2 linked regions of the Homo sapiens genome follow. The protein of the gene in region 1 interacts with the protein of each later gene in a biochemical or structural test. Each region holds a gene or a part of one and is shown in the gene's direction. Other genes may lie near its edges. The genes, in order: FLRT2 and UNC5D.

Region 1 (16,978 bases):
TCTCGCACACGGAACACAGTTAAAATCTGTAGCTAGAACGAGTGAAAAGTTCCGAATCTTTAAAGCGCAGCTAGGACAGGAAATAATACAGGGTTGGGGGATGTGGACGGGGGCGGAGAGCAGAGAAGTAAAGGAATAAAACCAACTTCGCTGGCAACTTCAATAAATCCGGTAACTGGAGGCAAAAAATAGACTCCGAGGGCTGGGTCTGGTCCGGATGAAACGCTAGGGCTCCTTCCCTTCCTTGAATCTTGGGCGCTGGAAGCCAGCCACGGGCGTCTTGCCACGCGAGTGCCCCTAGACAGCAACACACCCACTGGAAACGCACGTGAACAAAGCTCTCGCCCCCGGGAGCCGCTGCCTGCGGTTTCCTAGTCGATCCCAGCTTCTCTAGGGAGTGTCAGGCGCACACAGGGTTAAGTTAGTTCCCTCCCTGGTAGGAGGGAGAGGAGGAGGAGGGGAAAAGCAGCATACTGTCTCAGGCTGGGTACCTTGTAGTTAGTTGTACGTTCGAAACCTGTCGCCGTCACTTGCGCGTTTGGCATTATCCATTGTCACCGCGGAGGAACGAGCGCTCGAGATATCATCAGTGCCCGCAAATCTCCGCGCCAAGGCGCTGAGCTACTCCTTTCCGAGGTGCGCCTCTGGTCCTCCGTCCCTGGTGCCCAGCAGCGGCGAGGCGGCATCTCCGCTCCCGCCGCCGTGTCCACCGAGCCCTGGGATCAGGGTGGCAGTTCTCAACGATGGGCAGGAGGGACCTCGGCGGCGACCCCTAAAACAATACCATGCCCCGGGATCCCCGCTGCTGCCGCGCCAGCGTCTTCCCTTTCCACCTCCCTGACCCTGTCGGATTCGGATGAGCCCATTGCAAGGAGAAGACGCAGCCGTCAGGTAAAAGGGGCTGCGTTGCCAGGTGAAGTTTCCAGTAACCGGCCGAGCTGCTGCTACGCTGGCACCACGCTGTCTCTTCGGGGGATTTTTTTTTTTTGAAAGAGCTGGGGGTGGTCATCTTAAGTGGGGTGCTCTAGGCTTTGTCTTTCACCTGGAGAGAAAATAGGCAGCTTAGCTCTCTCTCGACTTTGGGGACATCTGTCTGCTGGTCGAATCCACCTCCTCTACGGAGCATCATGACTGAGTTCTGGGTCAAAACGCAAATTTTCTTGCCTGGTAGATGCATCGATGCTAAATTGGGGTTCTCAGTGCCCCTAACCTTGTCAGAGTTCAGTCTCCTACTTCCCTAGATTGAATCTCTTAACTTTCACCAGTAACAACCCTCTCCCCTCCACAAGCTGTTGTTAATGTCACCAGCGTTATTATCAGGCTGTTGTATCTAAAGACACCAACCTACTACCTGCCCGTAATCTGGGATCTATTAGCAGTTAAACAGATGCGGTGGATACTAATTCCTTTTCCTTCCAGTTGGTGGGGGCGGGTGGGGCTTTTTCCAAAACCAAGTCCCTTCCAGCCCTGCTTGTCCTCTTCGGGCTGGCGGGCACTGAGCTGGGGCCATCACGCCTTTCTAGAGCGCCTGCGGAGGTGGCGAAGGCTTGGAGAGCATACGAGGCGGAATCCGGATCGAGTGAGTTCCTTGAGCCGCTTGCGTGGGACGCAGGGAGAGGGCGAATAACGCCCTCAGGCGCTGAATGCAGGGGCAAGGAGCCAGCGAGGGTGGCTGGAGCAGGCCTTGCCAGCTGTTACCAAGTCTCTCCACAGGCTTGGGGGCTTGGGGCCTCCTGGAAAGATCCCTCCGCCGCGCTGACCAGTACGGGGCTCGCTCCCGCACTTTGAAGGCTGCCGCGGTCTTTCGTCATTTATAATCAAGCCCAAGATCAAGGTTGCAAGCTGAGGTCGGGGTACTGACAACGGGAATGAAGCCATAGGGGAAGAGGATAACTGGGACGGGCTGGACCCATACTTGATACCCGGGAAACTCCTAGAGCGTGTGGTGCTCCTGCCAGCGGCAGTTACTGGTGGAGCTGAGGCCACCGCTACTGTCGTCGTTGGCGCTTTGCTTCTGGAACCTCCCAGCAAGATGGCACTCACTGTCTGTTCCCTTCCGATTAGCACCCCCAGCCGCGCTCCCTCCTCCCCGGGATACGTATTAGTCACATACTGTGGGGAGAAGATGGGCTATGTAAATGTAAGTCAACGCGCTTTCCCAGCCACCTTTGCATAATGCAACAGGAACAGCGACCCGCGCGCACGAACCGGGTAGTGTGCGCGTGTGTGTGCTCGCGTGTGTGAGCGCGTGTGCCAGCGTGCGTCTCCGCGCGGGCGTGCGTCTGGGTGGATCCTTGCGTGGCTTGGGAGGCAAATCGGGCGTTTCTCCAAGTCGTCTTAACATGATTTAGGCTCTCAAATACGTGAAAGCGGTAGACACAACAGGGATGCGAAGGAAATAAAAAACAATTGGGGAAGTGGTGCCAAGTCACTCAGGCTTTGAACTGAGGACGAGTAGTGCGGTCGCGCCTGGGGCGCGTCCGGAAATCATCCTCAGCCTGTGGCGGCCACTGCCCCACTTAAACTCTTCTGCGGGGAGAGTTGAGCGGATCCCTGGGGGGTTGGTCCTGGGCTAGTTTTAAACTCTCCGGTTGCATCTCGCGTGGCCCCACCGACGGCGCGTCTCGGCGTAGCTCTTGGCGCGGGCTCGTTCTCCCTCTTCTGTTCAGATTCAGCCTCACCGGACTTGTTACAACATGACAGCAACTTACTGGAGGCAGGAAGAGCAGCACGAAATAAGATGAGAAAACCAAAAACATCTCCTCCTTCCTAAATAGAGACGTGCACCTAGCTTTTTTTACTTGTTTGTTTGTTTTTTACATTACCCTTTAACCTTTGGAAAGAGACTGCGAAGTGGAAACGTTGCCTGTACAGAAATCAGGCTTCTTAGCTGTCAAGACTGTTTCCTAATCTTTAGGCTGAATCTTTCTTTGTCCGCTGCAATCTATGGGGAAATTTAACAACGCTCTTGCCAGAAGCAGCCAGGTTGAAGGAAGAAAGTGGGGGTGTTTAAATTAATCCTATTAAATTTTGGATTACTCCCCCAGTTAAAGTCATTTAAGGTGGTCCAGGATGAGGGAACTAGTGATGGGGTGAGGAGTGGGGGGCACATCACCAAGGTTGCCTGCATTTGAAATAACGCCATTTTGGTTGAGAGGTTTGCTGTATTTTACCCTCTAATCTCACATTTCGATCATTTCTCAGTGTCTAAGTAATAGATCCTCCCTCTTGGCAGTACACCATTAAGCAGGTATGGGGAATTCTCCTTTCAGGGTTCAGATGGTGACATTATCCCTAAGGACTGGTGGTAGGAACGGCATGTGCCGGGTAGATAGAGAGAAGGTCAGGGTGGCATCTGCCGGGTTAGCCAGGCGCTCTTCAACTCTTTTCAGAGAGGACAGGGTTAAAAGCCAAGTCTGACTTTGCCTCTTGGAAATCACTGGGTAGCAGCCGCGCCTCCCAAGCATTCTTTAAACCAGAAAAGTAGGAGGGACTCCGGGAGAGAGGGAGGGAATGAGGGAGGGAGAGAAAGAGGGCTCCAGGAGCGGAGCGCGCCAGAGCGCGAGGGACGGAGGGAGAGGAGGAGCGCGGGAGCTGCGGAGGCGATCCCGCGAATTCATTACTGTAAACATATCCGGGGGTGTCAGGAGGGGTAGGGGTGGGGGCCGCGGCGCCTACATTAGCCCGGCCGCGTCGGATTGAGGCAGTAGTGTGGTCTGAGCAGCCTCCAGACCCACGCCGGGCGGGCGCAGCACTTGGAGCGAGCCCTGCGCCCGCCCCCGCGCAGCGCCGCACGCCCGGCTCCGAGCTGTCCGCACACACGCGTCGGAGGAGAGCCCGCCTAGCTCTCCCGCCGAGTCCCGGGATCCTCCAAATCCGAGGAGCTCCGGCGCCGCGGGGCAGCTTTCTGCCGCCTTCCCCGCTCGCTGTACTTCTTTTGGGGTTCGTTGGCTTGGCGAAGCGGAGAGGGGGAGGCGGAGGAGGAGAGAAGGCGGGGGTCGCGGCGGCCGAAGCCAAGAGAAAGTGGCATGCCCGAACCCTGGAGGCGGTGGTGGCGGAGGACGGGGGAAGACGATGCCGCAGCTCCGTAGGGGACGTAGGCGAGAGCAAGCGAGGCGAGCTGGGCGCCCCGGCCCCGGCCCGCTGCGGGGAGGCGCGCGCCGCTCTGAGGCTCCGGCCTCCGCACCCCCGCGCCCCGACGCTGCGGGCGACAGGGCTTGGCTCCAGCAGCCGCCGCCGTCGCCGCCGCCGCCACCCGGAGGACCCAGCAAAAGTTTGGATCTGGGGGAGGGCGCGGCGCTGAGCGGGATTACCACCAGGGCTGGAAGGAGACCTCGAGAACCTTTGCAGGTAACGCGCGCCCCCAACCCTCTTCTTCCATGCCCCGCCGCTGCGCTCCCGCTTCCTCCCAGAGCCCTTCCTGGCCCTCGCGGGTCTGGCAGAAAGTAAGAGGGAGGCGAAGTTCAAGATCCCGGGGATGAGCACCGAGCGCTGGCAGATCACTAGTCACGTTAGAGGGGCAGCTGTGCTGAGAGGCAAATTCCCCCAGGAGTGGGTGAGAACCCTCAGCCCCAGCTGGTGCCTCATCTTGTAGCTCTTTGGAAATTTGGAACGTGAATCCAGGGGCTTTTAGTATTCTTCAGTCCAGAGAAATGGTTCATGGATTTCACTTACCGCACGCTCCCCCCTTCACACTCTCACCCGTTTAGCATTTTTAAAAAATGATTTGAGCCCACTCCCTACTCTCCTGCTTCGTTTAGCTGGACAGCAAATTTCAGGGGTGAAATATTGCAAGCAAAGAGGAAAAAATATCCTTTCCCCTTTTGACATCCCTGGAATCCTCCTTCCCTCCCTTCACCTTCTGGCATCATAAAATAGGAACTTTAGAAGTTACATTTTCAGGGGTGAGGTGAAACGTGTTAGCTATTGGTGATGTGAATTTGCCACGACTGTCCGTATGTGTGTCTGTGTGTGTGCGTGTGTTTGGGGGAGGGGGTTAGTGGTGTTGCAGAGAGGCGGAATTTTTCTCGGTGGCCTGATGCGCAGTGGTCCTAAGGTAGTGAGTGGCCGCGTGTGCGCATTGAGGCGGCGGCAGCGGAGAGAAGACGGTCACGTTTCCCGAACGGCAGCCTTACTTAGGCTAAGAAAATAGCTGCAGCTCACTCCAAAAGCAAAAAGATTCCAGCCCCAACTCCCCGACGCCCCCTTTCCCCCAACTGAGTTTTTAGTTTCAAAGCAGCTCAGCGTTTGCTGCTATCTTTATTATGATCATTATTTATTCGCCTGGAAACTCATCCTGTCTTCTCCTGTGAATGGGAATCAGTCTTCAAGAGCTTTTGATTAATTTTAGTAAGAGAATCTCTTGTAAAGCTTACAGTTAGCTAACCAAGTGTAAGGCACAAATCCGTGTAAACGCTCGCTCAAGAGTGCAAGGTGCTGATTAGATTTCTTTACATGCTGCATTTGCTATGCAAAGCCTCTTCTAAATGGGAGCTATTGCTCCCCACTCAGCTGGGAGGCTCTTTAATCACACAGGGTTTCAGGGCGCTTTGGAGCATGTCCACTCGCTCACAGACTTATTGCTAAATTTATTATGTCTAATTTCTCACAACCAAAAGCTAATCTGAAGGCTAGCTTCCATATCGGACCGATATTATCTGTAGACTTAACCGGTATGACCTTAATAAATATCCAATGAAAAGCCCCCCCCCAAAAAAAAAAAACAACAACATTTTGAGGTAAATAGAATGCAGATTGGCATTTGTCCAGGGATATATTAGGTTGTTCAGTGTGAATGTAAAATTTTAGGTCCGTATTTGAAGTGTTAGAACTAGATTCTCACTTGTTTTCATTACTGAACAACATGGGCCAGCTACTTATGACGGGCAAGCCACCAGCCACCATATTAGCAGAGAATCAATCTGTAGGTAATACGCATACCATGAAAAGTTACTTCTTTCTCCACAGCGTTATTGCGTCTGAGAATACTACTTCTCTTCCTCCCCTCCTTGAAAGCCCGAAACAGGATAGGGTTAAACCATTTAGGGATTTTTTAATAATCACTGAAGACAGTGCAACACCATACTGTCATGTTGAGTTGCAAATATCTTTGACTGGAGGAGGTTGGAAGATGAAATTTCAAACATTATTCCATGTCTCTGCCAGTAGAGATACAAGAAATTGTAAAAAGAATTGGGCTAGCTGTACTGTAGCAGAACCTATTACAAACCTAGCATGGAAGGAATGCTGTTTTTTTTTTTTTTTTTTTTTTTTTTTTTGTTGTTGTTGTTGTTGTTGTTGTTTTAAAGCCCATGTCTTAACACTTCAGTAGTTTCATTGCAGTTTTAGAAATTCCAGGGGATGCTTTTAGCAGAAGAAAGTAGATTCCCAAATGACACCATGCTGGGCTACCCTGGAGTCCCCAAAGCAGTCCTGGCTTTTCCTGTATGTTAGGTTTCAGATGATGTGATCATATACGAGTTTGACTTTGACCGGCTGGATCTAATTTGAACCTTCTCTGATGCCCGTTACATTTATATTCTGGCCTGCTGGAGAGTTTGATTTAGGATTTAGACAACTTTATATTTTCCCAGTTTGAAGCTGTGGTTTTAAGAAAGGCTCAAGTATGTACAAGTCCAGAAGCTTTATTCTGTAGAGACCCAGTGTGAACATCTGATCTAGTTTGACTCTTGAGCTTTGTACTTTACAAGGAAGAATTCCTGCTTCTGGGATCTGAAGCGTCTGAAGTTAAAAAACAGCAAGGGTGCCGAGCGGCTTTTGGTTTTGCTCTCTGTTTAGAAGATTCAAAAAAGGTCAAGGTGATGTAATATTTGTATTCAGGTCAGACTTTTCTGGATAATCATCTTTTGATATCTTTAATTTCAATTCGAGTTCCTTTTTCACTAGATTACTTTAATAACTTTGTGATTTCTGCTACAGTGATTCAAATTCAGTCCATTAGTGACCTCTATCTGTGAGAAGTGAATACTCATGGTTTTTTTTTTTTTTCCTTCTCATCAAAGTCTGAAGATGACGTCAGGGTGCTGGGGGTGAATCCCAACAGTTCTGTAGTTCTTTCTGGATATTTCAGTTTACCTAATTTGATTTTTCTAATACAGAGTTCAATATGGATAATGACATTTAATTACAGTAATAAAAATGTTATGGACTAATAGAGAGGCAACTAAATGGTTATTCCATATAGCATTGACAGTGTGATCAACATAAATAAAACACCAGAGCTATCCACTGCCAATGAAGGGATTGTACAGTCAGGCTGACTATTGTTTTGGGACTCACAATGCTGCTGAATGTAAGTGAAATTTTATTGCTCCTAAGTGCTTACATAACAAGGGAAACTTGAGACGAGCTCAAAATATGTATGTGGTAACTAGACTTCATGGTAGCTGTGTGTATATGTCTTTAAATTCTGCTGTGCTTCTACTGTGAACTTATGGTACAGATCAAAGAGTGTGAGAAGAGTATTTATAAACAGATGGTCCTTTTAAGGAGACTTTAAAAATCTGATTCCTAATCCAGGTTTGTCTTGTGAGGGTTTTCAGATAGAAATTTCAATTTTAGCCGATTATTTCAAATGCTAATTGAAGACAAAGTTTACTGAATTTCTTAGGTGGGTGGATACCATTATCTGACATTTTCCAGATGGTTTTTGATCTAGTGGTATTTGGGGATATGGAATTTTTAGGAGGTTTTCTTTCTTTTCCCTTGGGCAATTTTTACACAAAAGACTTTTTTAAGACTAGCTATTATTATTATTAAAGTTAAACAACCATTATCTTACTTCAGACAACTTTCTTACTTTTTCTACTCTCCAAATTGCTTTTGTGCAATTATATCTTTCTTCTAAAACTACATGTCGCGAATTGACGTATCAGTATACTTTTACTCCTTTCAGTAATAAAGGACCTCCAATTACGTATCTGTTTATAGTAAAACACACACACACACACACACAACACACACATACATCAAGAACCATTTTAAGACAGAGATTCTTTTCAAGGTTTGAACTATGTTCCTTTTTTAAAGGCTATGACACAAATATTGTAATAAAAATATCCTGTGTTCTGATGAATACAGAGACTTATTTCATTCTCATGGAACAGTAAAACACTGTACTAGTAAAATAATCAGTGGTATTTTGAGTACATGGTCAAAATCTGTTAGAACCTTCATGTTTTGTTTTTTTTTTTTCTTCCTTAGCGAATTTCACATCTACTGGTGTTTTTGGTTTTCTTTGATTCCTTCTACTGTGGCTCTTTGAAGTGATTCAAAATTAAACAGTAGCTACTTTTTCAGGGAAATTCATCATGTTGTGTTCAGGATTCCAGAAGAGTTAATGATGCAGAAAAAGTTCTGTAAAACATCTTTCTAAAAGAAGTCCTTCTCTTGCAAGCCTCCCACTTACTGGCCTCCTGTACCATTTGCAGTGAATTGGAACTCCGTTATTTATTTATTTTTCAAATACCACCTCTAACTTAATTTAATGTAGGATGTGTTCCTGCAAAAGTGTGCAGTGCCATGTGCCTTGAGTCACCCAAACAAAGCAGTGTCATTGTTACATCCGGATCTGTTAATCAGGGAAGGTCAAAGAAAATATTCTTATATAATTTGGAAAGTCAAAAGGACACGTTGATGATTCTCAAACACTGGTCAGTTATTCTGCTGATACTTACTAAGGACATACTTTTTCTGGCAGTTTAATGGTTAAAGACCTCAGCCATTTTTGAAGCATTCACAAAGTAACTCTCTGGAGCTACTAACCATTAGATGCTCATTAGAACTGAGCAGTTTTTCCCCCCACTTTGTTCCCAGGTTACTTTTAAGGGAATGTGCAAGAAACTTGGAAAAAGGTCTTCTGTTCCCTTCAGTTCACATGTCATACTGTTATATTTCAGTTCTCTTTATTAGAGCTTTCAAGACACAGATAAAAGAATCTTCCATCTGAACCCCTTAAGAACCTGAGGGCTTTTGGATTTCAACCCACTGAAAAAATATCAGGTCCCAAAGTTTATAGATGATATTAGGCCTCAGAACAATTGAAACCACCTTCAGCAGGGAGCAAAAGAACAGTGGCTCCTAAAATTGGTTCACAAATATACTGTCCATTGAAGTCAACAGAGGTCATATGGCTGAATGGAAAACATTAGACGCATATCAGTCCTGAAATAGGTTCACATGCTGGTGTCACTCTTAGCCCCAGCTGCCTCTACATGTCACGTTCATCAGAATCTAGCATCTAAACAGCCTCTGTAATGATTTCCTCTCCCACTTTGCTCCCAAAATTGGACTCAAGTACTTAGACAAAGGAAATAATGCAAGGAATTATAATATTCATCATATCTAATAGACAAAGTGGAGGTAAGAGGTTTGTTTGCGTGCATAGGGGCCATAGAGGTTCCAGGAATCTCTTTTTAAGATTGATTTTGAGAGCACATTCGTATCCACCCTCATCACTCCGGGCCCTTACATTTTCCAGTTCTCACATCCAGGATTTCATTTATTTCTCACAACTGCCTCTGAATTTATACAGGAAAGTCCTACCTGCCTCACTTCTGATTGGGTAACTGGAGCCAGAAAGAAGTTAAGGGCTACTAAGGCTGGGCATTTTACATTTTATCATACAGATGTAGAATTCTGCAGATAGAATTGAGAAGTTCCATTCTTTATGAAACCACCCAAAATGATGAGAGTTGTTTGTTTTCGTTGGAACAGTAAAAAAAAATCACAAGCCTAGAAATATTTTGATTTAAAATAATAGCATTTCACTCTTCAGCATTAGATTAGATGACAAGTTTACCTGTTCTGAATGAGTATAATCCTATGATGTACGTATTTGGCACTTTGTGGTGGGGAGTGAGAAATAAATGAGATTGCTTTGGGGGAAGGAAAAGAAAACCTACATTCTCATGTCAGCATGCTTCTTTCTATATTCAGCCTTGTATGAATTACTTAATCTCCTGGAGACTTAATTTCCTCTCTACAGAGTTCAACAGAGTTGTTGAGAGGTCACATAAGATTAATGTGTGTGAAAATACCTTGATAACAATACAGTGTTATATTCCTATAAAGAGGCATTATTCAAATTGATAACATTTATCACTGCATGCCTGTCTTGTGCTATGATAGACTAGGTTTTATATAAATAAAATGGTAACCAAGACAGAGTCCTGCCTTTCAGGAGCTTTCGCTCTTACGGCCTCAAGAGATATCATCTAACCAATACACTGGCTGCTAGCCCCTGCATCATTTCTTCCATTCAGTTAATAATGGATTATCTCCTTTTCTGAGTTTGCGCTATTTTGATGAAAGTATCCATTTTAAGGATAAATGATAATTAGGGTGAGTTGAGTTCAAGGGTCAAACTTTTCTTTTGATTTTGGAAAGAGAATTTTGAGGATTTTTTTTGGAAAAATAAATCATCAATGTTTTCTGAAATGAGGTCGTTTCTCTTTTTGACTGGATTTACAGTTTAACTATCCAGGTTACCTTTTGCAAACACACACCAATAGAAATACAATGATTTTTTAAAATTTTGTTTTGCAAAATAAGGCAGGCTAGTGCAAAAGGGACATTTTGTAGTTTGGCAAACCTCCTCAACCCATTAACAGTGAATAGAAAGACAATTTATTATGAAGCCAACGTGTATTCCAAAGCTTGGCTTTATTTTGATGTTAGTGTCATTAAACCCTGTGGAACAGTTCTTTACAGTGTATTTCTGCATGTTTTGTTCAGTTCTGTTTTTACTATTGTCAAATCTGAGACTCTTAATTTTAAAGGTTCCAAGAGTGAGCATGTTTATTTCTCTTTGCTAAATTGTTTACATTTAGACCTTTGTAAAGGTTAATTCTTAATTGTTTTTCTGTTGCATAGTTGAAGGCTTCAGAAAACAAATGCCTTGGTGAAATCTATATTTATAAAATACGTGGTTGGATCCCGATTCTTGGCCAAAATGAGTATTTCTTTCGGTGATTTGAGGTATGAAGTCTGTATCCAACAACATTCTTTTCAATCTATGATTTGCTATTGTCGGAGTTCTGACACTTGCTTTTTTAATGTTTTTTTTTTAAAGTTGATTAGTACTTTAGCAGTACATTGTAAAGTATGTGGCCACAGAACTGTATTTTAACATGGAAAATTACTTGCATAGTTCGGCAAAATTAATCTGAATACCTTTTGTACTGGCAGTGTTGAATGATATAATATTTGAAGAGAGAAAATATTTGCTACTACTTTAAAGAGGTCTACTAATAAAATGAGAATCATCTGTAGGTATATATGTGGGGAGTTAGTACGTGTTTATATCTCTGAAATGCACCAACAAATATAAGTCTTATGTACTATGGGGAGGAAGTATGGTTATAGCCTGAAGCTAGGTAGTGCCAGTTTAGCACATATGTCCTTAATATGATAAAAATAGTGATGTAACCCAAATAGTTTTTAATTGGTGATTTTCTTTTTCCAAATAGGTCTTAGGGAAACTGTAAATGAAGAAAAGTACAAAATGCAATCAGAAAATATATTTAAGTCTGACTGGCCTGATCTTCATGAAGGAGATATTCTTATGGAGGTTTCACCAAATGAAGAAAGCTTGCTCATTCATTCAGGAGATGATTTTTAGCACTATCCATGAACTGGGCATAGAGTAAGATGGGACAGGCCAAAAGTAGGTAAGGCATGATCCCTCCACTTGAGGCCAGCTAGGCTAGTGAGCAGAGAGGTAGACACAAAACCTAATTGCATTGCAGTTTTATACAAGATTGAAGGGAGTGCAGTCAACACTAAGTATGCCAGAAACTCATAGTGTTAGTGAAAAGAGCTCTTCATTTGGAGATGGACAGTCTTACTCTTTGTCTCCTTAAGTAGAAAATGGAGGAAAATGGAGGAGTAGCTCTTTCTACTCCTAGAGCTATTAATTTTAGGATTGAGATAATTCTTTAAAATGTCTACCTGTTCTGGCACATAGGAGAGGCCTAATGAATGCCGACTGTAGGTCCTTCTGTCTCCAAAATGATAATGATTTCATTGTCTTACCATTACCTTCTACTGACTTGTCTCAGTTTGGGGAATGAACTGGGTCCTAACTTGGACTTTATTTGTTCATTGAAAGCATAGCCTTTGTGGCAATTAATGGGTTTATACCCACCCCCATGCCTTCTACCTCACAGCCATGTGTCCTTCTGCCGATGACACCAGTGCCTGCAGCTTCCAAGGAGTTCCATGTCTAGACTATGACACTGAGCTCAGTGAGCCATGGTTATGTCCTTGCCAAAGTACAAAGATTTTTATCAAAATGAATTTTAACAACTTTCCTCACACAATTCACTTTATACATGACTCTTGGCAGAGTCATGAAAATATTTTATTGTAGAAGATTAGCATGTAAATTATCGTTATGCTTGCTTAAGGCTTATTCTATCCTTATAGAATGATTATACCTTGCTGTGTACATTGGAATCAGAATGATACTCTTGGGCTATGAGTTCATTGTGGAACTATTTCTTTCAGAAGATAATTTTCAATTAAGTAAAGGAACTTCTTACTGTTTCTACTGCAGATACTTCTGAACAAATAGCAGTGTTCAGATGTCCTGGTAAAAATACATGGTACTGGGGTTATTTTTCATTTATCATTATAATTGCATGTATGTATAGTATAATTTCTGTGTTCCATTCAACATTTGAGATTTGCCCCTGTTTTTTTCAACACTGTGAATCCGTAAATTTATTGATGTAGGAAAGCTATATTTAACAAGATGTTAGGCATGCCCCAGACCTCCAAGCTAGGAAACACATAGGCTTTTTCTGTTAAGATCACATAATATATAATGTAATATATACATATAATTAATCAAATTGGACCTGAGAGAAGCAGGCACTAGAGTGTATTTTGTAAGCTGTTAACATCTTAGTAAGTAGCTTCTGAACCAACATTCAACCCAGCATAAAACAAAAAGACCTTGTTTTGCTACTTTAGGAAATGTAAGAGAGATTAAAATTCTTTGGGAAATGGTTTTAAAAAGTAGTTTTGTACTCAGATAGGTAAAGAACAAGTCCAGTGGTGCTGACAGCAATGGAATTTAAAACTTGATTCTAATAATCTCTGAGTCCCGAAGGAATGCCACGCAGACATCCGTTTGAGTCACGAGCTTGTAACTGAGGATTTGACAAAGATTGAGTCCTCACTGTGTGCCAGGCACCATGCTAAATTTTGTGCTAGGCACTTGGGATACTCTTTCAGACAAGACTTTGTCCCTGCTCACAGAGAAATCTGATAGGTTGGCCTATAGTCACTCTTTTCTAAACTTGACCTATCTACCTGAATTAACCGAAGGAGCTGGTTAGAAATACAGATTCCTGGGCCAAGAAGAAGAACCTAAAGTCCAACTTCCTGTAACCATCAACACATTTAACCCTGTAAGTTTAGAGTTTATTGTAACCTTCTCATGCCCTTTGCTATACTCAGTGTGCAAATCATGAAGACTAAGGTGGATCCTGTTTTGGTGGAGATTCTGATGTGTTAAGTCTGTGATGAAACCTGGGAATGTGAGTTCTTGAAAGCTCCCATTATTGGAAATCACTGAGCTAGATAGTTTTTAGAATTTTTTTTCTGACCGGAGAATCAGTGCTTTTTATAGTTGTCTGACTTGTAGTCACTTGTGACTTTCTGAAAGTTTTTCTGTGTATTTTGCCACATAGAAAATATTGCTCAATTTAACTCCATCTGCTAGAAAAGTACCTTCAGAGAGGCTAGATATCAGGGCTGGCTTCTCTCTTGGTAGCGGCAGTCTCCTGTCTGTTCTCCCCACCATCAGTGTCCCCTAAACCATTGTACTGTTTTTGGTGTCCCCAGAATTAATTTTCTAAAAAAAAAAAATAAAGAAATCACATCATATTCCTTTAGAAACCTATATCTTTGGATAAAGCCCATCAAAACTTGTTATCATGCCACGCAAGATCCGTGACAATCTAGATCTCAAACCACTCCTCAGACCTCATTGTTCAGCACCCATCCCCTGTACCCTCATGCCAAACATGGTGAGGCATGGCCCTCTTGATACTTTGCCTTTCCCATGCTGTTTACCATTTACCTAGAACATTATCGCATACTCTCCATTTGGCAAACTCTTCCTTTAAGAGGCACGTGGATGACACTTTCCCTCCTGGTTACTCCTTTCTCTGGGCTTCTACAGAGTTTTGTTTGAACTTTGATTGGTTCTCTGTTTATATTGTATTATAAAATGTGTCTGCTTACATGTCTATCTCGCTCATTAGACTTTAGGAACTTTGGCCCATTCATTTCATCTCTGTGGTGCTAACAGAGTTGCCCAGTGTACCGCATTCTGCAAAAATGTAATTGAGTTAGTAAATGGAATAGCACTGACCAGACCTGGAACACAAGAAGATCTTCATAATCCAGTGAGAAGGACTGCTTCCTCAGAAGTATTTTTTTATTCCCATAGATTGATTACCCAGTGGAGGGGGAAGTACAACCACCACCTTTCTGCCTTACTCTGAGCAGGTTTGTCAGACAAATATTGGCTGGTAAACCCAACCTTGATCAGCAGCAAGCTTTCCAAACCACACATGAGGCAATTCATATGCCACACTGGATAGGTCTGTTTAAAGAATAATAATTTCGCTTGATGATACACCTTTCTTGGCACTGAGTAAAACTATCGGTTACGTAGATGTTCACACAGATGTGGTTTTCCACAGAATGAGAAATTTAACTCAGCATTAACTTTGTGTATCTGTCTTGGCATAATTAACAAGAGCAAAGCAAAGGTCTTGTGAAATTTTGTGCATTTGCTCTCTTCTTTATTTTTTGCTTGTTATTATTTTGTTTATTTCATCCTAGGCCCATTATTTCCTGATAGAGGCCTCTGAGGACCCAGGGCTCTCCAGAGAAGGGAAAAGAAGGCTAGAAATCACAACGCCTTAATTTGGCTCCACAAAATAGGATCCATCTTTAGTCTTCATGATTTGCACATTGAGTACAGCACAAAGCTTGGGAAGGTTACAATAAATCTAAATTTATATGGTTTAATGTGTTGATGGTTACAGGAAGTTGGACTTTAGGTTCTTCTTGTTGGCCAAAAGAAAATTCAAACAATACTTTGTTAAGTTTCGCGGTAGATTGCCATTTGATGGACAAAGTTGACTTGCATGCAAGTGGTGTATTTGCAAACACACATTAAACACACTTCAATCCCTTCCTCCCCTTTTTTCAGCAAAACTTTTCAGTGGCTGAAAAGAGTAGAAGAGGATAGAGCACAGTTTGATATGCCCCTTCCTAGCCTTTGGTTTCATCTGGGCTGTCTGCATGTTGGGAATACTTCCCAAGCCAGTGGGAAACTCGTGAAAAAACACATGAGATGATTTTTGATCAGACACTACCCCTTAATACTGGAGGCTTATAACACCACCCCAGATCTTTTCATGTTAATTTATGAGACTGTTTAGAAACAATGTGCTCTCCTGGTTTCTTGAATTACAAAGAGTATTGGCAGGGCCAACTTCTTATCCAGAAGTCCAGTAATAACAACAGTAACAACAATATTAATAATGATATTGATCGTAAGGTTTATTTAGAGTGCTGTTTATGCAGTTCATGTATATTATCTCATCTAAACCTTGTACAGTAGGTTCTGTTGATAAAAGTTGTGAATAGCCCCATTTTACACAAAGGGAAACTGAAGTAGAGAGAGTTGCCTCAGATTGCTTGTTTTACTTTAGAGTTATTATTAATTGTCTTAAAAGGGTAGATGGACACTGGATAATTTCCAAAATCAACTCAAAATTTGTTTGTCCATGGCTTAAAAATCAAATTCAGAGGTGATTACTCACTGTCCAGTAGGTATAAATGATGAGCTGCTAACCAGTGGTCCAACTTTCTATATTTGTCTTTTCGAGTAGACAACTGCCTAAGAAATCATTAGTTAGTCTGCCACTTTTGGGTGAAAGAGATTCATGAGTCTCTCAATGTATTTCTGTAACATGGAAATAGTGAAGAATCATTAATTTGAAAACAAAGCATGACAACTTCTAGCACATTTTCAGTACTAAGGAAAGCTTGTGGATACATGCCTAATGATTAGGGGCTATATTTATTGTAGAGAACACTCTCCATTTTTTCCCCTTACCCTTTTACCAGCACTGCTAAATGGATTGATTTGAGATTCACCTCTTTTTCCCTGTGGAGGTGATAATGGACAACGGAATGACCAGAGGGAAGATAATAGCATAAAGTGTGTGGCCTCTGAGAGGGCCTGGGAAAAATGGAGAATTGACTGTGTTATTAATAGGTCAGCTTCACTGGTTTTCAAAATCTATGTAATTGCTCAGGCGGTAAGCTTTTATTGGGTGAAAAAATGATGAGAGATGGGCTCGGAAAGGCTTGTTCCACATTGATGAATGGAAAATAAGCACAGTATGTGCTTGCAAATCTTTACACTATTGAATTAGATTTTTGACCATCCCTCGCTTTTTGCACTTTCTGTGGTTGCACTCATCTCTACATGTATGAAAGTTGTGTTTTTTGAATTCTAGGGTTGTAATTAAGACCCTTCAGTTATTTGTCCATGGTATTTCTCTGTAAATATTATTAATACTGTCGAAATTATGTGATCCATTCCTTAATTCCTTCACTTCCCTTTAAGTAGCTAGACTGTGGCTTCTGTCACTTCTGTGTTCTTTTGTCACCATCTGCTCATTATCTGTCAAGAGGGGACTGTGAATTATTTCTGCCCTGGGCCAGTCTAATGGAATCCTTGGTGGGGCTGTTTAGGGAAGTAGGTACTACTTAGGTGTGGTAGCAGTTAGGTGAATGGCTCCACAGGCAGCCAGCTCCATTACCACATGAAAGCACCAGCAGCATTTGGCTTCCTGGTGAATTCTGTGGTGTTTCTTCTGTCTATGGAAGTGCAAATTTAGCTGAATTGGGTAGAACCGAAACG
Region 2 (16,978 bases), on another chromosome or scaffold:
AAGTGGAAGTAGGAGAGGCAGGACTTTAGAAGGGCTCAAAGTAGATGAACAAAACGGAGGTCTCCTGGAAGCAGGTGACTGAGTTAGGCAACCGAGATGCCCACATATCTGTGCGGCGTTCGCCCCAAGAGGCCAGCCGGCTCCGCTCAGCTCCCCGCGGCGTGGCCGCATCCCCGCCGCCCGACTCCCAGCCCGCTTCCTCTCTCCGCGAGCGGGGGGGGGAGCTGCAGGCGGGGCCCGAAGCGCCCCGGGGGCACGTGGAGCGGCCTCTGGCTCACCTGCGCCTCCCGGGCCCCAGCCCAGCGCCGCCGCGTCACCGCCCCTCCCGCGGCCCCGCCCCAGCCCGGCTCATTGGCTGCCGCTCGGAGGGGAGGGGAAGGGGCGGCTGCGGGGGTCTCATTAGCGATGCGGACTCTCGCCTCCGCTCCGTAGTTCGGGGCCCGGCAGCGGCGCGAGGGCTGGGAACTGCGCGGCGGGGACTGCGGGCGACTCCGGCATCCGCGCTGGCGGCAGCGGTCGCCGCGCCGTGGGAAGCTATGGGGACGCGCCCTTTCTCGGGGTGCCCATTCAGCGGCGGCTCGGAGCTCCCTGCCCCGCTGCTTTAGGAAGCGATCGTGGAGCAGAGTCACTCTCTGAAGACTCCCGAGACCCATTCGACTCGGGACCCTCATCGCCGACCCTTTCCCGGGCTCCCGGAGCGTGAAGAAGAGCCGCCCTCCGGAACGCGGCGAGGAGCATGGGGAGAGCGGCGGCCACCGCAGGCGGCGGCGGAGGGGCGCGCCGCTGGCTCCCGTGGCTGGGGCTGTGCTTCTGGGCGGCAGGGACCGCGGCTGCCCGAGGTAAGCGCTGGGCGGAGCGGGCAGCTGGGGGCGAGGGCGCAGGGGCGCCAGCCTGACGGAGCGGGACCTGCACCGATGGCGTTGGCTTCCCAACTTGCGCCCTGCACCTCGGCGCTCCAAGCCCAACCGGATGGGAGCCGAGTGGAGGACTCCGAGGGGACCACAGCCTTCCAACCCAAGTTTGCGATCTGCCGCAATCCTACAGGTGGCTGTGACCCGGGCCCCTACCGTTTTCCTGGACCCTCCTTGCCTGCTCCATTTTCCAAGCCCTCCCCAATTGCTGCAGACTGGAGTAGCCCGGTCTTCACTCCAATCTCGCTCTCCCCTCTCCTCTCCACTTCCTCTCAAGCCGAGCTTGGTCATGAGTTAGCGCCCATAGCGATGTCGGAGAGTTCCTGGGGAGAGGGGCCAGGTGATGGGAGTGTCTGTAGGGTGGGCTTGAACAGAGAGGGTGTCTTTTCCCTTAGGGGAGGAACACCCATGCTGAAGTCCCTTCGCTCTGCGCCTAGCTTGGCACCCCTCGGGCGTCCTTAGCCCGAGGTCCCAGCCAGCCCTGGAGCTCGGGAGAGCGGCGTGCACCATCCCAGTTTAACCGCGCCTGCAGTGCCCAGCCGGGATGAGCACTTGGCCCGAGGCTGCTCACCAGGCGCCTCCTCTCCCTTCCCGGCGCCTACTCTGGCTTGGAAGCGCGGGCCCCACCGAGCCGCAGGGAAACCTCTGCTTCTTTCCGACTTAGAAGCCTAGACCCCATTTTCTTGGATCCTCTGGACTCCAGCAGAGGGAAATTTCGCAACTGGTTTCAGCTCCACCTTGAGCGAGGACAGGCAGCATCAAGTTAAAGATAAATCCCAAGGAGTTGTTTTGAAGATGATCAGAGGCAGTTTCAGACACAGCTCAAGTACCGGAGCTTTACCTTTGAAAAAAATCGGAAGCTTTGCCTTCCCGCCCTTCTTTCCCTTTTTCCTTCTCTGTGTTCCATCCATCAGGCTTAGAATATGTGATACCGTTAAATGATTTGCCTTACACTTGCCAGGGGAGAGGTGGAGCTGAGCTGACCACTTCACCTGCTCTGTTCGGTCTCCTGAACATGCTCCGACCAGCCTGGAGAGTGAAAGGGTGGAAAGGGTTGAGGACGATCACAAAAGAACCAATGTTATCTCATTTTTATAAAAGCTTATGGCGTGTTAAAAGCAGTCCGGCTGCCTAGAAAGATTTTCTTTTTAAGAGGTTGATAGAGGCTCTCCATTGTATGATCCTATTCTTTGCCCATTTGCATTTCATTTCCTGAAAAGTTTTTTTTTTTTTTTTTTTTTTTTTTTAATGGAGCGGGCTTTGTAAGAAGCAGGGGAGGTTTAAAAATGAGCGTCGGTGATTGTACACCCTGGGTTATGATGAACCACAGTTCCTTCTCGTACTGGAAGAAGCACAAGCTTCAGCCATTTAATTTACTACGTACGGCAAATGTCTCATTGCAAAGTCAGCTCTCAGTTGTTTTTAATACACTCTTATGGGAAAAGTGGGTCTTTTCTAAATGTTAATCTAAATGTCTGAGTTTCCACTTACTATTCGTGTGGAATACCTCACAGTCACTAACTCCAGGTACTCACCCTTGGAATTGGGTTGGTGACGTTGTCTTGAAGCCAGCTCGAAACAAGAGGTGGGGACATGCCAGCAGCCTCTTGGATGGAGTTTTGCTGGCTGCGAAACTAAGGCTAGCACCTCTTGTCTGCAAGCTGTTCTTTAAAGGTCTCCTGGAAAACATGCTGTACATTCTGCAGGCTTATTTACAACAAATGTCTTGCACAGATCATAGTAATATGCAAGACACATGGAGTGGAGCCGTAAATCTGACTGATATTTCCCATGTCATATTTTACATTCTGGGGCATGAGGCCCATTCCCCTTAGCAACTGTCAGAGAGTCCTCAAGAAATGAGCACTAGTCAGGCTGTGAAACCGGTGAAGCCACATGCACCTGGCTTTGCACAGTTGGGTGTAATTGGAGTTTTCAGAATAGAGGGTGTGTTTCAGTGCTTATGAAGTTCTCCCTTCCCAGAAAGGTGTCCATTCATTAAAACCAAGATAAGATGCACTGGTGTGGCATGCTTGCCTGACCACTAGTCTCACCATACTCTCTAGGATTAGCCCTAGGTTGTTCTTACTTATCCAATTAATAGTTTTTGTTCTTTAGGACTTTTCTTGTTGATTTGAAACAAGATACTTTGCTTGCCCTAACCAACGGGGTATAGAATTATGCCATTTGCCTTGCTGTTATGAGAATATTTAACAATTCAGTAGCGTTTTCTTTACCATATTTATCATTTATCTGTTTCCAAAATGATTGCACCAACTTTTTTTTTTCTTTCCTTTCCCTCCATACTTATGTAGAAACCTCTGCAAATCAGAGGGAGATTTCAAATTGGTTTTGAATATACTCTAGGAGGAAGACCCTTGGGACAAGGAAATGTTGTAGAGCCCAGTAGTGGCCCAAGAAGCAATGTTCTGTTTCCCTCCTTTGTAAGTAAGACTTAGCTCTTCAGATGAACATCTCTGCCTGTCGGCATATTGTAAGGAAGGCACTCTGGTGCCATGATCACTGTATATTTTTACACTTTCCAACTTAAAAGGAGGTTGTTTAAAAGTTATTCATGACCTGCCAAGTGCTAACTGAATCCACATCATGTTGTCATACTGATTTGTTTTTGTTCTTCAAGAAAAAAAGGGGGACTGCTGTTCATCTGCTTGTTATTTTTGCCTTAGATACTGTACATAAGATACTGTAGTCATTAAAGGCAGAGAGGAAGATAATCTTAGACAAGCTGAGCTTTCATACAATTTCTTGCTTTAAAACATTTCCTGGACAATGAAATTTTGATTGCAATAACTAGAGTAATGCATTAATGGCAAGAGAAGTACACATTTATTACATAGGCATAATAATAGTCTTGTGATTTACACATACTTAAATCCGTCTATCTGTCTAGCTCATAAAGTTTAAAATCTATAGTCATTTCTACCTTAATGAATGTTGTGAGGCCACCCTCTTCCTTCCCACTTTACTTCTTCTGTTCCTTTTCCTCACAAATCTTTCTCTTCCTAGGACTATGAGAAAGAGTCTTTTTCCCCTATTTCCTGCCAGACTTATTTTTTCCTGATTCTTGGGTTGTGCTCTTATTTTGAGCAGCCCAGTGGCACCTTCTTAAGAGATCTTTTAAGCATCTCAGTTTTTAATAAGAGATTAATTGTTCTGACCTAGCCCTATAATGATAGCACTTGTCACCCTTTGCATACTTTTTTTGCTCTCCAGATGACCTATCGGTGGGTCTGTGGTTCTTTAAGTAGTACCTCACAGGGGAGGGAAACATTTGGAGCTGTGGATCCTTTCTGAGCTCTCTCAGGACTGGATGACTGAATCCGTCAGGTAGTTCTACACTGCGCTGTCTTATTGATTAGGAAATCACTTTTCTGTTTATTGTCTCAATGCTTCATAAATTTGTTTCTATTGTCCTCTTCCTACCAAATGCAGTACCCAACTTAAAGCACTGCCAGTGTTTATCAGGGAATTGGTTTATTGGGAGATACTGCATGTTTGATATCCTTCCCTTCTGCTTTTTTTTTTTTAATATCTAGGCTAGAGACTCAGACATGTATTAAAATCTAATCCCAAAGACAAGTGATTTATTCCATAGCATCCTCTTAAGGAAGGGGGTGGTGGTGGTGTGTGATGCCCTCATAATGGGAAGGCACATGTGTTCACAGGGAGCCCAGATGTGCCCTCCTTCTTGATTACACCTTTGCCATTAATGCTGATTGTCCCTTCGTCCAGGCTGTTACTTGGCCAGCAACATCATTGTCTTCTCTTCCTTCCTCCTCCTTCTGATACCTTCATGAACTAACTGCTCAACAGAATAGATCAATGGAAACGTTCCCTATTTCTATTTCATTCTTAGTCACATATTCTATGTAGAGACACTTATTTTCTCCCTCCTTCTTTCTTTTCCTTTTCTTTTTTCCTTTCCTTTCCTTTTTCCTTTTTCTCTTTTCTCTTTTCTTTTCTTTTCTTTTTTGAGACAGGTTCTCACTCTGTCATCCAGGCAGGAGTGCAGTGGTGCCATCATAGCTCACTGCAGTGGCGAACTCCTAGGCTCAAGTGATCCTCCCACCCCAGCCTCTTGAGTAGCTGGGACTGTAGGCATGCATCATCACACCCGGCTCAGTAATTTTTTGTGTGTGTTTGTTTGTTTGTAGAGATTAGCTCTCACTATTTTGCCCAGGTTGGTCTTGAACTCCTGGGCTCAGGTGATCCTTCTGCCTTGGCCTCCCAAAGTGCTAGGATTACAGGTATGAACCACCACATCTGGCCTCACCCCTTTACTTTCTAAATGGCTACTGCCGGCATAAGACCTATTATCATGTTGTTAGCACTCTTTTTGTATTGTACCTGTTCCTTAAAATAATAAATACATTTCTGCAACTTTGTTTGAATATGAAATAATACTTACATGAAATAATAGTAATACTTATTAGTAATACTTTCATACTTAGTTGAGTATGAAATAATACTCCTAATAATAGTACTTACTTCATGTGTGAGAGTCATAATTCTAAATGCTCTACAAACATTAACTGATGTAATCCTGAAGATAACTCTTTGAGGTAAGTACTGTGATTACCCCCATTGGTAAGATAGGAAAAGAGGGACACAGGATTGAAAGCTTGCCCAAGGCCATGGAGTTAGGACATAGTAGGGCCTAGATTTGTACCTACTCCATCTGACTCCAGGGCCCACAACAAAGACAATTTTTCTGAACTATGCAGAAAAGAAAATGACCCTTGTATTTTGATGACAAAAGTACTCAAATGATATCTTTATTACTATCAAGAGGCATAGAGGAATTTAGAGTACCTTAAATAAGTCTATAAATATGTTCAGATAAATCTGAAAGATTTGTGTTGTTTGAAAATAACCGCCCTCTCCCCATTCAGCTTACTATACTTTGGGATTGGATTCACACTTAAAATTCTGAGTGCCAGTTTCCAATATGATAGCTTGCTTTTGTTTTCAATTTTGAATTTCGGCAGAAAATATGACTCTGATTGAATACGCCATCCATGGAACGGCAGATCCCACGAGACTATTTGTTGCATGTCTTGTATTTTTAGCCTTGTTTGCCAGGGAAATGTGGAGCATGAGATTTGAGAATAGATTGTTAACACCAGAGGCTGCTGTTTCTGCTGTTTTGGGTACTCCTGCTGCTGCTCTTGTGAGGCAGATGGCTAGATTCATTTATAGAAAATAGATATTCGTTCTATTTTGCATTTCCACTTTGAAAAGAACTTTTAATTGTTTGTGCCACATTGCATCGTATGGCCTTATTGTGTGCATACACACGCTGTGCGTAGATAATTTTCAGAATTAGGTGGATGTTAATGTATTCATTTTGGATTGTGTTATCTGAAATCCACTGCTAATTCCTGTGGTTTTGGAATTTTCTCTTGAAAGGAGTATGTTTTCGCTGTGTAAGTATTTTGTGCTCACCCTACCACCACTCCCCCCACACCACTTCACTGAATTCAGTGATAGAAATATGAGGGTTGTGTTTATGGGGCTAAAGTAGAAACAATAACCAAGTAGTAACATTTTTCAGATGATATCAGGCCACTATAGAGCATAAAATATTTCTGAATATTGTTTCTATCAGGACAAGGATAAAATGAGGTCAGTATTCTTCTTATATGACCAGTCTCACTTTTTTTTTTTCAAACTTCAGAGTAGCTTTTATTTTTTATTTTTAAATTTTAACACTTTTTAAAATTGACGCATAGTACATGTACATAGTTTTGGGGTACAAGTAATAACTTAATACATTAATATAATTAGTAAAGATCAAATCAGTGTACTGGGTTATCTATCACCTTTTGATATTTATCTTTTCTTTATGCTAGAAACATTTGAATTGTTCTCTTTCAGCTATTTTGGAATATGCAATAGATTATTATAAACTATAGTCACCCTACTGATCTATCAGACACTGGGTCTTATTCTATTAAGTGGTATATTTGTACCCATTTATCAACTTCTTTTCTTTTGATAGTTTATTTTATAAATGAGGAGACTGAAAAAGTTGAAAGCTGTCTTCCAAGAGAGGTCAATGTTGGCTTTATTTAATGCAAATATTGACTTTCTGCCCCCAAATTACTGGATTCATAAGGTGCAAAAGAACCCTCCTTCCCAGAAAGATTGGTACAGGTACCCCCACCACTCCAGCCCACATTGTATTTAAGGGTATTTTTCCACAGGTGGGAAAATATCACTGTAACCACGTGGGATTTGAATAAGAAACTTTACAGATGTTTTGTCGTTACCTAAATTGAATGCTATGGCTTCCCAGTCAGATAAGTCAGAGGGGAAATGACATCACAGACATTTGGGAAGGTAAGTAACTGGTAGGCAGGCATAGGAAGGAGAAGATGCAAGAGGCCACAGTGAAGAAACTGTCTGAACTACTTCAAGGGACTCACCACCACTGGGATGACTATGCTTTGTGTGATACAATTCACAGGTGTTGGCAGCTTATTATTTTATTTATTTATTTATTTATTTATTTTTGAGATGGGATCTCGCTCTGTCACCAGGCTGCAGTGCAGTGGCAGGATCTTGGCTCACTGCAACCTCTGCCTCCCAGGTTCAAGCAATTCTCCTGCCTCAGCCTCCCGAGTAGCTGGGATTACAGGCATGCACCATTGTGCCTGGCTAATGTTTGTATTTTTACAGACAGGGTTTCACCACGTTGGTCAGGCTGGTCTCAAACTCCTGACCTCGGGATCTGCCCACCTCAGCCTCCCAAAGTGCTAGGATTACAAGCATGAGCCACCGTGCCTGGCCAGCAACTTATTATTAAAGAGAACGTATTTACTCAATATTGGAGAAGATTTGCCTCTAAATAAATATCTGGTAGTTTAGGGTTGCTTAGAAGTCATTGGTGTCTTCTGTTAGCAACAGTACTTATTTAGTAGTTAACATCTTTATTTTAATTTAGTGTAATAAACCTACTGGGAGAGAAGGGGAAGTCAAATGATCATGGGTTATGGAAGCTAAGCTGGTAATATTTGAAACTCACAAATCAGTGCTTTTCAGATGTTAATGTGCATTTGAATTACTGCAGATCTTGTTAAAATGCACATTCTGATTTAATAAACCTGGGGAGGGGCCTGAGGTTCTGCATTTCTGATAAACTCCCAGATGACACCATCTGGGGGCCATGGATGATAGTAATTCTTGTTTTCTATTTTCAATATTGTTTTTTCTTTTGCAAGCCAGTATGAAGTGGAATTCCATGTAAGAATATTTTTAAAATGCCAATTGAAGAGTAAGAAAACACAAATGTCAATTTTAACTCAGACAAACAGCCACTTATAAAACAAATAGGCATTCTGAGGGCGCCGTCCTGATGCAATATAAAGCATTTATAAAGAAAGATGCTGCTCCAGTTTCACAATATTTTAAAAGTCTTGGATTTCCTTTTGAGCTAATTGGGGTCTTATATCTGCATCTAATTTATTTCTTGTCATAAAGAGGAAATTGACTCACCCAGAATTTTACCAGTTTGCCCAAAGTCAGATTTTTGTTAAATAAGAGGCCTTTCTAACTTTCTGTAGCACTCTTTCACGTTATTCTCTTGGCAGGAGCTACATATGCTTAAGAATGATCCGAAGTTCAGGATAATGAGGGGATGAGGCTATAGTTAAGCAAGAGATAGAATGAGAACAGTTGTTTTAAAAAAAACAGAGCAGTGAGTCCATATGGGGTAGTGATGTTTCCCAAGCGGTTGGATCCTTATCCCAACATGGTGTGGAGGTTGTGTCAGGCCCCTCTGCCTTTGATGCAAGTTCCATCTCATTCACTTTTACTTACCCAGTACCTGATAGGGCTTGTCCCATAGCACATGTTGAATAATGTGTGTTACTCGAACTTTATTAAGGCATAAATATTTAGAATAAAATTTCAAAAATCTAATCAATACTGTGATAAAACCCTTAGGAAACTTTATTCACCAGAGGAAGAATAAAATAGTTGTAAGAGGGTTTGACATTTGTTTTAGACAGATACTAAGGCCTACATTCCTAGATAGATTCTTCTAGAAAGATGATTAAGTGACATCTATCATGTGGTCCTATTATGCGTGGCTGTTTAATTCATGTGCATGCAACTTAACATTTTTAGGGGACTCACTTAATTCTGATTGCTTTGTATCTTTGTACCCGCCCTAATATTGAACAGATGATGAAATTAAGGTTGACTTTAGAGATTTTTTGACCAAAGTCGAACAAACCTAAACAGGTAGTGATAAACAGTGCTAGGACTAGAAGCCAAGCCTTCATGGTTTCAGGGCCTTTTCGATGATGTTACCATGTAATTCTATTTTATTAGCACATGGATTGATTATACTGAGGTGGGATGATACAGCACTTCACTCATAGTCCATTTGACAGGGATGTGGATGTATAAGCATCGGAGACAGAAAGAGAAATAAATGGATAAAAATTCATTTCACTGCCTATTGTGCCTTCTTGGTCTGTAGGGTGGTATGTTTCTCATGGTTATAAACAGAAATGGCCCTGTCTGTGACAAAGGGCTGTCACAAATGTGTCAGGAATGATTGGAGGACAGTAACTTTATGAATATATTAAAAATAACATGCTGTAGTATGGAGTAATTGATGTGTAGAATATTCTGAAGAACTTTTGAAAAATCAGGGGATTTAAAGTAGTTTATTAAAGTAAGTAAAATAACAAATTACAGTAGTTTTTCTCAGGTTTTGTTTTTAAAGATGCTATTACAGGCTGGTCACAGTGGCTCATGCCTATAATCCCAGCACTTTGGGAGGCTGAGGTGGGAGGATGGCTTGAGGCCTGGAGTTTGAGACTAGCCTGGACAACATAGCCAGACTCTCTTCTCTGCACATTTTTTTTTTTAAAGTTAGCTGGACGTGGTTGTTCGTGCCTGTAGTCCCAGCTACTCGGGAGGCTGAGGTCAGAGGACTGTGTGAGCCCAGGAATTTGAGGTGACAGTGAGCCATAATCACTGCATTCCATTCCTGGAGACAGAGCAAGACCCTGTCCCTCCAAAAAAATTAATTAATTAAATAAATATGCCATTAGAGACACCAATTTTTTAGAAGTATACTAGCTCCTCAATCTGCGTACTTTTCTAAATACCTCGTCTTTATTATTACTTTTGAGTGTATGTGCTTTATTTTTACTTTCTGTGTCCAGTTGTAAAGCGAAATTCTTCTGATTTGTGTTCGAAAGCAGTTTAGTGGCACAATACAATTAGACTTATAATAACAATTTCCATCAATATGTCATTAAGAAGTGTCTAGCCTGTTTTTTTTAAGAGAGATGGAAAAAAAATACAGAGCACAAAATACAGTTCTTTGCCAGAGAACTATAACTGTGTTGTAAGCCTTTTGAAAGGAACTGGGAAAAGAAAGAATCTATCCTTCCTCTGAATAGACAGCCCTTGTTTCTCTCTCAGTCTTGGGACCAGAAGCTGCAGTGATTACTAGCAGCTTGTATCGGGAGGTTTCCAAAGTTGTTTCTCTTAAAAAAAGCAATCAGGATGTTCACAGGTTTTGTCAGTGTGAGGTGTGTGGGAGGGATATAAGGGTTTGGGGGTTTGCTATAAAGAAATAACAGGTTTGTTATTAATTTTATTTTTCAACTTAGAGCAAAAAATAAAAATATCCATCTGATGTTTTCTAAAGTTTAGCAGCTAACTTGCAATGCACATCAGTCTCCAGGATATCAATGTGAAAAGACAGCTCTAACCTACCACATTCTGCAGCGGAGAAGACCATTGTAGAGTCAATTATTAATAATTGTCAAGGTGATAAGGACTGTAATTCATGGATATCTGTGTGTATTATATATTAGTAGAATGTCATATATCATCATCATAGCAAACTTAGATCATTAAAGTTATATGCCATTAATTTAAATGGCATTAGTAACACTTAAACTTGGGATGTAATCACAATTTTGACTCAAAAGTCAGCTGCTTAATTCTGCTAACCATCACTTCACTCTCCATGGTGTCTCCCATCTAACCCCCTATGCTCGGTCTTTTCTTGTTTCCTTTCTCCTCTTCAAGTCAAAACTTCCTTTCCATTTAAGCAATGTGGGGGGCTAGAAAGTTCACAATTATGTGTACTTGAAACATCACTTTTTTCTCTAGTTCTTTTTATTTGTAGGAGAAGCAGTGACTAAATTGTCATTAAGGCTCCTTCCTGCTCTGAACTTCCGTGATGCCGCCCTTTGTTTTCTGTACCGTTTATTCACATTATTTTTTTATCATTTCAGGAAGCTTTTCTTGGCATTTTAAATATGCATCAAACCTTCAGTAAAGGGATAATACTCTGGAAATAGAAATTGCAGGACAAGTTAATGGGACTTCATAATGACGTTGGTAATCCTTGGCTTAAGCATTTTCAAGAATGTACCAACTATAAGAGAAATCTATTTTTTTTTGTTTTGATTTCTCTTAAATCAGTGGCTGTAGGTTAATGCATACATGTATAACTAATGCAGAAGTGGTTTGGCAGGAGAAGACCTGGAGGAGTTAGGCACCCTCTGCCATAGCTCACCATTGCTCAGTTGGGTGTATGGGACCCCTCTTGCTAGATTGACTTCTTTCTTTTTTTTAGTAGATACCAGATATATGAAATTTCATGTTAAACTTGCAGATCTGAAGTCTTATCAAATTGTTTTCACGAAGCATCACGACTCCAGCAAAACTCACAAGATATGGCACTCGGCCCTCCAGTTTGTCTCAAATCAATGACTTGGTCATGTTTTGTTAAGAGATTTAAAGAATCAGGGAGCCAGTTGGTCCTCATTTTCAGTAATTATCTTCGCTTGAGCTGTGGGCATACAACACTTTTTCTAGATTTGTAGAATAGTGTTATGTCATGGCCCTTTATTGAACACTGATTTGATCACTGAGTTTCTGTGGCTCTCTGTTTCCCATTTGCAAAGAAAAACAATCATAAAATTACATTGCTAAAAAGGGCCCTAAAATTTCCAGGCCAAAGTCCAAATTTGTACATGAGAAAAAAAGGTGTTGAGGAGTGAAGTTGCTTGCTTGGCTTTTAGAGGTCATTTCCGTCCGTCCCTGCCCATGAATCCAGGTCTTCATTTTCTCAGTGTTGTCCTTGCCTCTTCCCTTTCAGGCTTATAATAACAAAAGTAATCAATAGAGGCACAAAGGAATTCAAAAGAATGATACCAGAAGACTAAAGACTATTGATCATTTTACCCTTCTGTTAAAGGATGTTTTCCTTTTATTTAAATGTTTATATTTTTCTAAAATATCTTTGAAATTACAGAGATTTTTTTTTTTTCCTTTGGCTTACAGAATGCTGAGGTCATGATATGATGGATGCAGTTTGGTGTAGCAGAAATAATATTGTAAAAAAGGTTTGCATTATAGATTCGTTTTGTGTTTGGGTGAAAGTTAGGGTGCCTTAAGTCTTAATCTTAAGCTTTTGTTCCAGTTACTTAACATCTGGATCCTTAATAATAAATTTGTTCAGTATGAATCTACTAGGAGATCCTAAATAACTTCTCTCTCTCTCTATATATATATATGTATAAAATATATAAAATATATATAATATATAAATATGTATAAAATATATAAAATATATATAATATATAAATATATATTATATATAAAATATATATAATATATAAATATATATTATATATAAAATATATATAATATATAAATATATATTATATATAAAATATATATAATATATAAATATATATTATATATAAAATATATATAATATATAAATATATATTATATATAAAATATATATAATATATAAATATATATTATATATAAAATATATATAATATATAAATATATATTATATATAAAATATATATAATATATAAATATATATTATATATAAAATATATATAATATATAAATAAATATTATATATAAAATATATATAATATATAAATAAATATTATATATAAAATATATATAATATATAAATAAATATTATATATAAAATATATATAATATATAAATAAATATTATATATAAAATATATATAATATATAAATAAATATTATATATAAAATATATATAATATATAAATATATATTATATATAAAAAATATAATATATAAATATATATTATATATAAAAAATATAATATATAAATATATATTATATAAAATATATATAATATATAAATATATATTATATAATATATATAATATATAAATATATATTATATAAAATATATAATATATAAATATATGTTATATAAAATATATAATATATAAATATATGTTATATAAAATATATAATATATAAATATATGTTATATAAAATATATAATATATAAATATATGTTATATAAAATATATAATATATAAATATATGTTATATAAGAAATAGATATAATATATAAATATATGTTATATATGAAATAGATATAATATATAAATATATGTTATATATGAAATAGATATAATATATAAATATATGTTATATATGAAATAGATATAATATATAAATATATGTTATATATGAAATAGATATAATATATAAATATATGTTATATATGAAATAGATATAATATATAAATATATGTTATATATGAAATAGATATAATATATAAATATATGTTATATATGAAATAGATATAATATATAAATATATGTTATATATAATATATATATTTATAAATATAAATATATGTTATATATAATATATATAAAATATATAAAAATATATAATATATATAAAATATATAAAAATATATAATATATATAAAATATATAAATATATATAATATATTATATAAATATATAAAATATAATATATAAAAATATAATATATAATATATATAATATTTATATTTTAAAAATATATTTTATATATAATTCTATAATAATATAAAAATATATAATATATTATATAAATATATAATATATTATATATAAACATATATAATATAAATATATAATATATTATATATAAACATATATAATATATATTATATATTTTTATATAATATATTATATATAAACATATATAATATATATTATATATGTTTATATAATATATATTATATAAAAATAATATATAAAATATATATAATATATAAAAGTTATATATAATATATAAAAAAATATATATATTATATATATAAAATTATATATAATTATATATAAAATCTACATAAAATATATATATTTTGAAGACAGCTTTCCATGTTGGCAGTAATATGTCCATGATATCCTCAAAAAGCCATAAATTTACATCCAAAAAGAGTGACTGGATATACTTTTAAAAGCTTTGGTGGCCAGGCGTGGTGGCTCACGCCTGTAATCCCAGCACTTTGGGAAGCCAAGGCAGATGGATCACCTGAGGTCAAGAGTTCGAGATCAGAGTGGCTAACATGGCGAAACCCCATCTCTACTGAAAATACAAAAATTAACCAGGTGTGGTGGCAGGTGCCTGTAATCCCGGCTACTCGGGAGGCTGAGGCAGGAGAATCGCTTGAACCTGGGAGGTGGAGGTTGCAGTGAACCGAGATTGCACCACTGCACTCCAGTCTGGGCAATGGAGGGAAACTCTGTCTCAAAATAATAATAATAATAATAATAATAATAATAATAATAATAATAAAATAAATAAATAAAAACTTCGGTTGCTTCTTCTCATGCAGTTCTGAGTTTCTTTTAAAGTGAATTCTGCATCTCTTGTGACCATAATAACGTGCAAAAAGCAATCCCTGTATAGAGCTTATGAAACTCTTGTGCCTCTATTATGATGATTCATGTTGAAGCCACCTTGCTGGAGAAGTGTTGAAAACTCTTGATTCTTGGAGATTAGGTGTCAAAATATTCAAGGTTTGGCTATTTTTAGCAATTTATCAGTGAAGTGTCTTGCTGCTAGAAATAGTGGTCAGGCTTTGAATCTACAAATCCCTTGTCTTCACTGAAAGCCATTTTTTTTTTTCAAAATTGCAGAAAGGAAAACATCTGTAGTATTTTCACCTAGGGTTAGGTGAGAACATCATAGGTGCTTTGAATGTGTGTGGGCATTTACTTTTTTTTGTTTTTTTAAGTTATTTAAAAGTTTAAATGGTTTTATTGGAACACGTTAGATTAAAAGATGAGCCCCAAATGTTTAATGTAACCCTTGTTTATAGAAACACCCATGTGTGTAATTGAAATTCTGAAGAGAAAGAGTTTAATTCTGAAGTTCTCAGTCAGCTGATGCCAAGGCATTGATCTCAGAGCACTTAAGTCAGAATCTCAGTGGGAAGGACCCAGGGTTTTGTTTGTTGTTGTTTGCTTGTTTGTTTGTTTGTTTTAAGTTCCTCAGGTTGTTCCCAATTTGGGAACTTAAGACTGAGAGCCATGGATTTATTTATTTATTTCCAAATAATTTCAACTTATATTTTAGATTCAGGGGGTGCATGTGCAGGCTTGTTACCTGAGTATACTGTGTGATGCTGAGGTTTGAGAATGATTGATCCTGTCACCCAGATAGTAAGCATAGTACCCAATAGTTAGTTTGTTTTTCTTTTTTGAGATGGAGTCTCGCTCTGTTGCCTAGGCTGGAGTGCAGTGGCACGATCTCGGCTCACCGCAACCTCCGCCTCCCTGGCTCAAGCAAATCTCCTGCCTCAGCCTCCCGAGTAGCTGGGATTACAGGTGCATGCCACCATGTCTGGCTAATTTTTTTCTATTTTTAGTAGAGACGGGGTTTCACCATGTTGACCAGACTGGTCTTGAACTCCTGACCTCAGGCAATCCGCCCGCCTCGGCCTCCCAAAGTGTTGGGATTACAGGCATGAACCACCGCTCCTGGCCCCAGTAGTTGCTTTTTCATCCCTCCTTCCCCCACTCTAGTAGTCCCCAGTGTCTCTTGCCGCCATCTTTATGTCCATGTGTACCCAGTGTGTAGGTCCCATTTATAAATGAGAACATGCAGTATTTGGTTTTCTGTTTCTGAATTAATTTCCTTAGGATAATGAGAGCCATGGATTTAATGCATGCATTGATTGTGTATAAACATAGAAACTGTCCTTTCTTGAGAATTCAAGAAGTTATTTGAAGATTCCTATAATGACAAAAGCATAAGGTATGAAGATGACCGCCAATGGTTCACCTCTTCCTCCCTATTAGGCCTTATCTTTCCACCTTGCATCCTATACTCGTCTGTTCTCATGTTGCTATAAGAACATACCTGGGACTGGGAAATTTATAAAGGAAAGATATTTAATTGACTCACAGTTCAACATGGCTGGGTAGGCCCTAGGAAACTTATAATTATGGCAGAAGGGGAAGAAAACATGTCCTAATTCACATGGTGGCAGCAAGAAGTGCTGAGCAAAAGGGGGAAAAGCCCTTTGTAAAACCATCGGATCTCATGAGAACTTTCGTGAGAACCACCCCCATGATTCAATTATCTCCCACCGGATCCCTCCCACAACACGTGGGGATTATGGGAACTACAATTCAAGGTGAGATTTGGGTGGGGACACAGACAAACCGTATCACATCCTAAACCCTTTGCATGAGTGAAATTGAATGTTGGCACACAACGTTTCACCTTTTGGGAGCTAGCCTTTTCTTGCTAGGGTAAAAGAATTCAGGTATTAATAAAACTAATGTGATTATATGGAAAGATTATACAGTATGGAAGGAACATTTTAAGAACATGAGGTTAGAGATTGTGCCATGTTTCTCTTGTGGACAAGAACATAGGGGCCCATAAATGGAGATTCCTTGTTTTCCTTTAACCTTCATCTAATGTGTCTTAGGTATTACATCTCAGGATGTAAATGATAAGAGGCCATATTTATGAAAGGACTAATATTTTTGTACTTATCTTAGTGTCTGAAGGATGTAGGCCTGGTAGTTCCTCATACGGAGTAGGGTGAGGCCCTAGTCACTGTCTACTGTTAACCAAAAGAGGTGGGCAGGAACCCCTGGCCTACACACCTTTGCCATTGTAGGAAATATAGCATAGGCATTACATCTAAAGCAAGCTTTCCTAATATTACTACCCTGTTCCTAACTACCAATGGTTCTTTTTTT

Evidence for each region.
Region 2: the proteins of FLRT2 (region 1) and UNC5D form a complex in vitro, tested with the Homo sapiens proteins (one study listed by BioGRID).

The regions. Positions count from the first base shown.
Region 1 is NC_000014.9:85,529,644-85,546,621, forward strand, and holds the start of FLRT2 (leucine-rich repeat transmembrane protein FLRT2 precursor), read left to right. Parts: upstream 1-500; 5' UTR 501-891; exon of another isoform or gene 892-2,140; intron 2,141-3,705; exon of another isoform or gene 3,706-4,350; intron 4,351-16,978. UniProt on the Homo sapiens protein: Functions in cell-cell adhesion, cell migration and axon guidance. Mediates cell-cell adhesion via its interactions with ADGRL3 and probably also other latrophilins that are expressed at the surface of adjacent cells.
Region 2 is NC_000008.11:35,235,049-35,252,026, forward strand, and holds the start of UNC5D (netrin receptor UNC5D isoform 1 precursor), read left to right. Parts: upstream 1-426; 5' UTR 427-736; coding exon 737-839; intron 840-16,362; exon of another isoform or gene 16,363-16,978.